2 linked regions of the Homo sapiens genome follow. The protein of the gene in region 2 purifies or fractionates together with the protein of the main gene of each other region. This does not show direct contact. Each region holds a gene or a part of one and is shown on either strand. Other genes may lie near its edges.

Evidence for each region. The genes of interacting proteins can lie anywhere in the genome.
Region 1: the proteins of TGFB2 (region 2) and LRRC32 purify together in Homo sapiens (co-immunoprecipitation; one large-scale study listed by IntAct). This does not show direct contact.

Annotation. Positions count from the first base shown.
Region 1 is NC_000011.10:76,660,579-76,665,378, forward strand, and holds part of LRRC32 (transforming growth factor beta activator LRRC32 isoform a precursor), read right to left. Parts: intron 3,289-4,800; exon of another isoform or gene 2,051-3,288; intron 931-2,050; coding exon 1-930.
Region 2 is NC_000001.11:218,430,440-218,435,835, reverse strand, and holds part of TGFB2 (transforming growth factor beta-2 proprotein isoform 2 preproprotein), read right to left. Parts: intron 1,755-5,396; coding exon 1,622-1,754; intron 1,499-1,621; coding exon 1,388-1,498; intron 1-1,387.

The DNA of each region.
Region 1 (4,800 bases), on a different chromosome or scaffold from region 2:
CAGGTGCTCAAGAAAGCTGTCGGGGATGAGCTCAATCTCATTGTAGCTCAAATCCAGATTCAAGAGCTGGGAAAGGGGGCGGCCGCTGGCATTCCCGCTGGGGGCTGAGAGGGGCAGGGCTGACCAGCCCTCGGAAGGTGCGTGGATGCCCTTGCTGTCCTGGGGTGGCCCTGTGGGGAGCCGGATGAGGTTGTTGGACAAGTTCAGGTAGATGAGTCTCGGGAGCGCGGCCAGGTCGGGGAAATGGAGCAGTTTGTTCTCCCGCAGGTCAAGCCAGGTGAGCTGGAACTCAGCCTGGGGCTGGGAGGCCGTCTGAAAGGCCTCGATGCTGTTGCAGCTCAGGTCTAGCACCCGCAGCTGCTGGAGGCTGAAGTCGGAGATGCAGGTGAGGGAATTCCTGGAGAGGTTGAGATGGGTCAGGCGGGGCAGACCCTCGAAGGCGCCATCCTCGATGTCCATCAGCACGTTGCTATGCAGGTCAAGCTGCTCCAGCGCAGGCATGTCCCGGAAGGTGTGGCGGGTGAGGCGAGTCAGACTGTTCTCCGCCAGTGAGAGGGTATGCAGGCTGGGTGCCTCCCCCAGCAGCCGCTCCAGCAGGCCGCTGTACAGGCTGTTCCCAGACAGGTCCAGGGAGGTCACGCGTGGCAGGGGGCCCAGGCCACCAGCACTCAGCGCAGTGGCCATCGCCAGCCGGTTGTGAGCCAGGCTGAGGTGCTCCAGGTGGGTCAGGGCCTGGAAGGCTCCTGGCTGGAGGAAGCTGATCTCATTGGTGCTCAGGTCCAGGTGACGAAGTGCTGTGTAGAAGCCCAGGGGTGAGGCCAGGATACTCCGCAGCTGGTTCCCAGATAGATCAAGGGTCTCAGTGTCTGGCGGGAGCACCGAGGGGACCTGGAGCAGGCCCAGAACCTGGCACGAGACCTTCTTGTCCACCTGGGGAGGGGTAGGGTGGGGAGACAGCTGGCATAAGTGGGCACGGTAGGGGATGAAACCAGACATGTTTATCCAGGAACCCTGCCTGGCTGGGGAACCCTTCTCCCATGGACTCCCAGAATGCTCAACTTTCCCCCACCGCAGCCTGATCACCCCATGCCTGGATGACCCATCCGGCTCCCTGCCCCATCTCGGGCACCCAGCGCAGTAATGGGCATTAAGGAAGGAACTCGATGAAGGTTCCATGGGTGGACAGATGGAGAGATGATAGACAGATAGAAGGACAAATAAACTAACAAAGAGAAACCCTGTACTTATTATTACCCCTCTTACAGGAAACAGCCATATATCCCACAGAGTGACCCCAAGCCAGTGAGCAGCAGGGCAGAGCTGGGACCCAGGGCTCCTGATTCTATGTCCTAGGTCCCTTCTATGGGCACAGATAGTTAAATTTCTGGTGGTAGATGGGAATTTCTCCACTTTGGGAGAAATGTTTCCAAAAGGGAAAACTGTAATTTGTGCTCTGTCATCAGTTTTTATCTTGGCCTCCCTGCCTCAGACCTCATTCAGGCTCTCGTGTCATGGGCAGAGCCTGGGTCCTGGGGCCTGCCTTCCTTGTGGATGCTTCCGAGATGTGGCTTCCTCTCTGTTGCTGTTACCTCCTAGGAGGTGGCTTTCTTCCCAGGCTGGGTCAGGGGACCGGGCCCCTGGAGGTGGGAAGGGCCAGGGAAAAGATGGCCAGAGCCAAATCCACAGTCTTTGGTGATGAGACTGTGTTTGTGCTGTGCGACCTCCAGGAAGTCACATAACCACTCTGTTTTCTTACGTTCTTCCCCAGCAGCCACTCAGCATTTGACATCTTGGTTAATACTTTCAGGCCCATGGTCCCATTGGTCTTTACCACAGCCTGCCCATCTGATACGATCACCCCTATTTACAGAAATCTAGGCTCAGGGAGGGGAAGGGAGGTGCCAGGATTGCCCAGCTGGTGAGGAGCAGAGCTGGGATTTGAACCCAGGTTTTTTAACAACAAAAGGCCGAACTCTTGTTCTTCCACAGATGTGCCTTCTGGGACCAAAATTCTTCCTGTGCAAATGCAGGTCTCCCTCTTCTCTTCCAGGCCTCCAGGAACCCCAGCCTTTCCCAGAAAAAGGTCTGACTTCCACAATCACCGGGCTCAGGCTCACCGCCCCCAGCTTCTGTCTCCGCCAACCCGTTCTGACCCACTCACTGCTAAATGCCTGACAACTGCTCAAAAGCTCTACTCTGACAATGAGGCAGCTTGGCTTAAACTTCTCCACGGTGAAGTCCAGGATCCCCAGCAGGGCCTTCGAGGCTGTTTGTAGCCCCTGCCAACCTGTCCCCCACCTCCCACCCCAGCCCACATGCAGTGACCACAGCTGACCACTGCCCATCATGCGCTCCCACACCCACTGCTGGGGCCTGCTCCCTGAGCTGGTTATGCCATCCCCAACCAGATCCACACATGAACTCTTCACACTGAGCTTCAGGGCCTCCTCCACCAGGGAGCCCTCCCTGACTGTGCTTCCTCTCAGAGCTTTGCCCCGCTGAATTGTGGCTGTGTGTGTGAGGACCTGCTAGACAGCGAGCTCAGAGCAAACAGGGACTGGTTTGGTGGATGTGCATGCCTTGGACCTGACTAGCAAGTCAATTTTTCCTAATGAATGAGTCCCAGACATCATCAGTTTAGTAAAGGTCTGAGGCACTGAATCAATCACTTCTCTAGGAGGAAAGAAAATGCATAATTGATATTTTCAAAATATAGTCAAAGACGGGTAGAGCAAGAAGAGTTCAGCTGACCCACTTCCCAGATGTGAACACTGAGGCCTGAAGATGGCAGTGACTTGCGTGAATTCACAGTGAGCCAGTGGCTGAGCTGGTAGGGAGGGAACACAAGCCGGTGTGTTCCTCCCCTGGTCCAGCTCTGCGCTTCCTCCTGAGAGCCCCAAGGTGAGTAGGGGGAGGAAGAGACCTGCCCAGCCTCAGGCCTCCGTGTGGCTCTTCTTACTCCATGCAGCACAGTGACTCCATGTAGCCTCCAAGGGAGGCAGCTTCACAGGGGCCTCAGGAGGCCCAGGGATGCCCCGTCAGTTGGGCACCTGTGTGAACCTGAAACCTGCCCAGCTGCCTTGCCCATCCTTGCCCTTCCTCCCTCACAACCTCTCTGTCTGCAGGGGCCACTAAACATAGCCTCCTCCTCACAGCCCTTACCCCCTGGGGCATTCCTTACTTAAAGCAGAAACAACAAAATGACCTGTGATGGAGCCCCAGCTGTGTCAGGCTGCGTGCTGAGTGCAGAGACCCCCTACCCCATTAAATCTTCCCAGGCATTGTTCACCCTGTTCCTATTGTACCCCTAACGAAACTGAGGCTAAGGGGAGTGGGCTGCCCAAGATCAGACAGTCAGGGGCTCAAAACTCCCATTTGCAAATTCCTTTTCCTATTGGTGCCAGCCAAGTTCTGACCACTGGGCCCTCAGCTGGTCAGCACAGCAAAGAGCATCATGGACCCACTTACTGACTGTTACAGTGTGGGGGGCACCGTGCTGTGCCCCGCGTGTTACCCCCGGGCAAGTGCAGAGGCATACTGCCTCTGGATAGGCAAAGGCTCCCTGGGGCACCAGCCCCTGAGACTTGATCCAGGACACAAAGTTTGCCAAGCCCACAGCCCAAGACTGGCTTTCCATTCAGGGGCCCAAGACCCCTGCTCTAGAAGCCTGGGGGCCTGATGGTGGGCAGGGCTGCACTGGGATGCCCAGATCTCCAGTCCAGTCCAGGAAGAAGCTTGAAGTCCAGGGCGGTGCTCAGAGCTCCACTTCCAGGGTCTTCATGCCTCCTTCAGCTCTGAGCTCCCAGCATTGCCTGACTTACCGTCGGAGGGAATTGGAGGAATTGGCCCTTGACCAGAGTTTAGAGCTCCCACCCACTGTCCTGGGCTATCAGGACACCCACTGCCCAGCTTCCTTTTCAGAAGCAAAGACTTGCCATCCAACTCCATTTCACCACCTGATCATGGGAGGAAAGCAGAGTAGGGAGAGGCACCAGGCAGTGAACAGTGGCAAAGGCAGCTGGGTTCGAATCCTGTAGGTCCCTGGTGGGTCACACATCTTCTCCTTACTTCCCGTGTGTATTATTCCCATGCTGGTTCAGAAAGTGCTTTCCTATCTCTTATCTCATTTCCCCAGACTCCAAAATTCACCCGCTTCCCCTCTGCCTGTTGGGTAGTCAAGGACTTTCCCCTCTGAGCCTCGTCTCCCTGAGGTAGAATGTGCGTTTGTATTTGGTGACATCTGAGGCCTTCTCTGCCCGCAATTCTGGGCTCCGGGAATCTTAGAAGGGCTCTGAAGAGCAAGAAAGGTGGTGGCAACAGGAGACATTGCACCCCCAGGGAAGGGCTGCGGGCAGGCAGCTGCCTGCACTTCCTGCCTCCTGAAGCAGCTGCCGGTTCTGTGTCATAAGCTTCTTCGAGTCTCAGGTCCAAGAGGGGCTTCCGGAGGCCCTGCCCTTTCCCCAGCCAGGCTCTGGCCTCAGTGACTGCCCGGCCTTACAAGTGGATCTAGGTGTTCTCTTTGCCCTGTATCTCATAGAGTCACAAGAACTTTAGGGCTAGTTTCCCTGGCTTGGGACAGGAAAAAGGAATAGAAGCAAATCAAACTTGGTCCTTGCCCTAGGGAAGTTCATGGTCTGGCAGGTGAGACAGGCTTGGACCCTTTCACCAACCACCCCACATGTTCAGTCTTCTCAGTATTGAGATAGGGGGAAGCCTGGGGACCGCAGGAACCCAGAGGAAGGTGTGATCAGACTAGGCCAGCCTGGGAGGGGCTGGGGAGGCTTCCTGGAGATGGCAGCA
Region 2 (5,396 bases):
TTCCCCATGGAAATAGATATGGCACAACAGGACTACGACTAACCCACGTGACAATTAACACTTCTAAATGGGGCTCTTGTCAGAAGGCAGTTCGGTGTCAAAGCCAGGGCTGTTGGTTATGAAAGTCACTACAGAAGCAGTCTTTGACCTATAGTCCAAGGGCAATCTAGGCAGTTTATTTTAGTCAATCCTCAGTTTAGGCTGCGTTCAAGCCCTCAACAACTGAACACATGGCAATAGAACATGCCTTGTCACCCGCTGGTTCACACTCTTCCTAAGACTACTAAACTCAAAAGACTTTCCTAATGAACATAAACTGAGACTTAACTGAATTGGAGTGAATTAGGTTCAAGTGAAACAGAAGTCACCCTTACCTAATGCTATTTTGGGAAGCTGTGAAGAAAGGGCTTTTTCATTTATTTTATGGCATCCTCAACACTTTCCTGATTCCATCTGAGATTTAGAAACTTGAGCTCCCCAAAGCATGCTCAAGAGACTGCCAGTTTAAGCATTTAATCTCCACACTCCAGAGAATCATGACTAGGTTAGAGACTGAAATAAATCTCTAGACCTCTGGGAGTATTTTTCCATGAGCAAGGGCTGCTGTAGTCTTCTAAAAGTGGATGGAGGTCCTGGGTGATGTTAGGAGGGCAGGGAAATCAATTCTCTGGCCTGGCATTGTGGGCAGATGCTGTATCGGCACATAGGCATGGATTTCCTCTCACCTCTCATCATCCAACAACTCATCATCTAATACATGAAGTGACTTGAGCCCTTGGTATCGCCTCACTCTCCATGACTTTTGTCCAACTTACTTAAAGGTAAGCGTGGGGAAAGCCAAAACATTTTTATGTGTTTATAAACTAATATAAAATTCTGATAAGGAACCCACTTGAAATACTGGGTATGGACTAGAAAAGGTGGAATGTTCTTATACATGGAAGGTTAGTTATGGAAGCTGTAGCAGGAGGAGACTCCTTTCTTCTGTGAAATACGGTTGTCAGTTCCTGACATTTGGTTTGGGGGATTATCAATGAATTTTCTTAAACACATTCTATCTTTCTCTATAATATCAGTATAGATGGAAAGTTGGTTTGCTACAATGAAGAACAAAGGCCTTAACTTACTACTGGAGGGTTAATGAGTTAATCAGTTATTATTGACCAAGTCATCACTGGGCATTGAGAATTATAAACTGGGAACCTATTCCGTTCTTCCAATCCTTTCTCCCTTCACATATGTATATCCAACCATATCACTGTCCAAATGAATGAAACTCCCCAGGCCTTACCAGTCTCATTTTCACATGCAAACTGATTTTATCCCCCATGAGATTATCAATATAGACCCTTCCCTCCCCCACCTCATATGACCAAGTTTTGGTTACCTGCAAATCTTGCTTCTAGTTCTTCACTTTTATTTGGGATGATGTAATTATTAGATGGTACAAAAGTGCAGCAGGGACAGTGTAAGCTTATTTTAAATCCCAGGTTCCTGTCTGGAAAACATTAAGTCAAGGAGGTCATTTGTATGTGTGTCTATACCCTTAAATCTGCAATCAATTTAAAGTAACTTAGGGATACTGAACATCTTGGGAGGAAAAGAGAGAGTGGCTTGTAACCTTTATGGTGAAGCCATTCATGAACAGCATCAGTTACATCGAAGGAGAGCCATTCGCCTTCTGCTCTTGTTTTCACAACTTTGCTGTCGATGTAGCGCTGGGTTGGAGATGTTAAATCTTTGGACTTGAGAATCTGGAGGGGAAAAAGAGCAAGAGAAAAGGCTGAGTTGGCATTCTGACAGCATGACTAAACCAAAACTATTAACAGTGTTCTAATTCATTACCTAAATTTAGCTCTACTGTAGTATAGCCATGCATTGTCATCTCAATTGCATGGTCACATGCATAAAAACACAACACCAGGCTATTTGCCATGAAAAAATAGCTACTAAATCAGCTGCATGTTATGATAAAGGTGACAGGAACCATAAAGCCAAGTGTCTAAAAGAAAGTGACAGTAATTATTTTACTTTGCTGACATAAGCTTTGCAAGATTTCAGCCATAAATTCTATGCTATTAAGTTAATGGTTTTCTTGTTCTGCTTCCCTACTTATTTAATTTGGGGAGTTGGGGTACAGGAAGGGACAAGAGGAGAAGTCCAGTTCAGAGGACCCAGGCTCACTCTCAAAGGCCCTGAATTATAAATCTCCTTCTAATAAAGAAAGAACGGTCCTAACCTTGGTTTCCAAATCCATTGCCATTAAAATATGTGTCATGCCTCAGCTTTTGAGGTAAGTCCCTAGCTGGGATATTTTACTCTTAATGTGATTTGTTATGATTTATAAAGGTATTCCATCCCCTGCAGACTCAGAATGAATCTCAGCAGAAGTAGTTTGGTATGGTGCATAGATGAATATCTGAAAGCAAACCAGCCTAAACACTGAGGCTTTAGGAAGATGTATTTATCTCAGGCTGGGCGTGGTGGCTCACCGTAATCCCAGCACTTTGGGAGGCTGAGTTGGACGGATCACTTGAAGTCAGGAGTTCAAGACCAGCCTGGCCAACATGGTAAAACCCTGTCTCTACTAAACACAAAAATTAGCCAGGCACAGTGGTGGGCGCCTGTAATCCCAGCTACTCGGGAGGCTGAAGCAGGACAATCACCCGAACCCGGGAGACGGAGGTTGCAGTGAGCCGAGGTGGCATTACTGCACTCCAGCCTGGGTGACAGAGTGGGATTGCCTCTCAAAAACAAAAAAAATAAAGAAAAAGTTAACATTTCAAGAAAGGTGTATTTATCTCAAATGAGTAAAGCGCAACTGTAGTATGTTCCTAGGTTTCGAAAGGAAGTGAATATTTTAGGTGGTTTTAAAAAAATTCTATTTTGAAATGATAGTGGTTTTAGGAACTAAATCATGATTCTAAGTCTACTATAGTAAATCCCTACTGAAACCCTGTATGCTGCCTTTCCTCAGTACTTAGGGGTTCAAGCTGTCATTTTTGTACTACTCTTCCGGATTTTTGTACTACTCTGTTTTGTGGTCATTCCATACCTATGGGCTTGGTCTCTCCAGCAAATTCATAAAACTTCCCAGGTCAGGGATCATGTCTTCAATTTGATATCGTTTCAAACCATAGCACTCAATTGAATCAATATCTATTAAATGTTTATTTCAGTATCTAGAAGATTTATTAACTATCCTTTAAACCTTGTAAAACAAAAATGCATCATCTTTCCACTCATCTGAAAATGTACTTTCCTTCCATGTGTGTACATGATTTGTTTCAGGTAATTTGGCAACAGACGCTTCCTAAAATACTTGCCATAATGGTAGACTTTTTTCTGGATTAAGTAAATATAGAAAAGGAAGGAGATTCATACAATTAGACCCTTGGGTGCCCTCATGAATTTTACACAAGACTTATTCTACAGATCTGCCCCTGTGGTCCAAAACCTCCACTAAAAGAAGAGAATGTGGAGGCAACAATGGCTCTATGATAGGTAAGAAATGTTCTTTGCGAATTAAAGAAAGCAGATAAACATGACTTGAGGGCTGGGTACACTACGCTCTGGGCTTGGCATGCATTATTTTATTTTATTTAATCCTCAAAATGTTCCTGTAGGGTAGATTAAGGAAGCAAACTCAAGGAGGTTAACTAACTTGCCCAATGCCTCCCAGTGAACAAGTGTGAAGAGATGATCCAACTCAATCCCGAGTCATTTTCCCACTTCAGTGCTGGATTTTTAAAGGCCAAACAAGTTATTGAGTCAAGAAAACATTCAATGACAGAGGCAAAGATTTTTAAATAAGATTAAAATAAATGCTGGTACAAGATGAAAATATAAGATAGTGGAACGTATACACAATGAATGTTGGCATAAAGCTACAGCTTTAAAGATACAGCTTAATAGCAGTCCATCTCCTAGGAATCAAACCTTGCCTTGAAAATACTCCCAGTTGGGAAAGTAAGACATCACTTATCTAATTCTGAATAAATGGTATAATTAACCTACTATGGAACAGGAATAAGAAAAACAATGGTTGAGAAGCAGTTTTCAGGCATTCTGATCTGCCTCATTGACTAAAAACTGGTAACATTCACAGAACTCATCGTTTTGTCTCTAAATTCTTCCCCTAGCTAATCTGCAACAGTGCATTTTTACAAAATGCTTTGCATATTTCTGTGCTGCTAATTAGCACAGTGTATTATCTTATTCACATAGCTAACATTTAGACATACTACCTAGAACTAAACATTGTCTCCATTGCTGAATTAATTACTTATGATATACATGTCAAATGTCTATGACATATACATACATATACATGTATATATGTGTGTATATATATGTCCAGTTTCACTAAAGACACAGAATTTTTAAAAATTATGGCCATATCGACCAAATAAGCAGAAAAGACACATAATGCCAAATCTATATAAATCTTCCACCTTATAGAAAAGGAGTACATTTAGATTATCTTACTTGGAAAGAGTCCAAAGAGCAGCAAAGAGACTCTGAAGCTTTTTCTCTTTTAAATCCTACTAGGAGAACTACGATAAGAGCTTCCTCAACCACAGAGCACTGGTAGGCTCAGAAAACAGACAATCTCATCCTCTCACTTGGGTGAAAGGTCCTCTGGATCTTTTTCACTAGCTCCAGACTCATGAACAGGCCACATATAAACCACCCAAGAAATACAGTTAGTTAGCTACATAATTCTCAAACACAGTAGCGACTTTTGTCTGGTGGATTTGTTGTCTTGAACTTCATGGCCAAAGAGTTCTTAACCCACTTGTTGCATGTTAACTCCATTCTTCTTATCCAGTCCTTAGTGGAAACAGGAAACAGCTGCTTTCCATCACTCAGAGAATATCCCTCATATTCTTGGAGACTATGATTAAGTCCCCCTCAGCGTGCTTGCTTGCTTTCTCTAAACTAAATAAACCCAGTTCCTTTAGACCATATTTAAAGGTGTAATTTCCCAAACCTTTAATCATTTGGGTTGCTAACAAGGATGAATGATGCTATATAAAAGTATTCCTCCTACAGCTTCATGATTTTGCTTCAGAACTATCTAGAAAACCTTCTAATCACATCGTAAAGTCTTGAATCTTAACTTGAAAGGTATCTTCTTCCTAAGAATAGGCACAACCTCACTATCCTCTGTTTATCTCCCATTTATCACCCACACTAAATTGAACTGTAAGAGAAGAAGGCATGGAAAATCAACCTGCTGCTTACATTCAAAAGTTTATACAGGAAGTGACCAGATCAGTCAACTTCCCATTCTATTTTAGCCTTTGCTGTCTGTCTTTCTCAGGTCTCCAAACAACAAGAGTATTGAATGTTAGTAGTTGTGGATATGTAGCTGTTAATTGTTTTTCTAGATT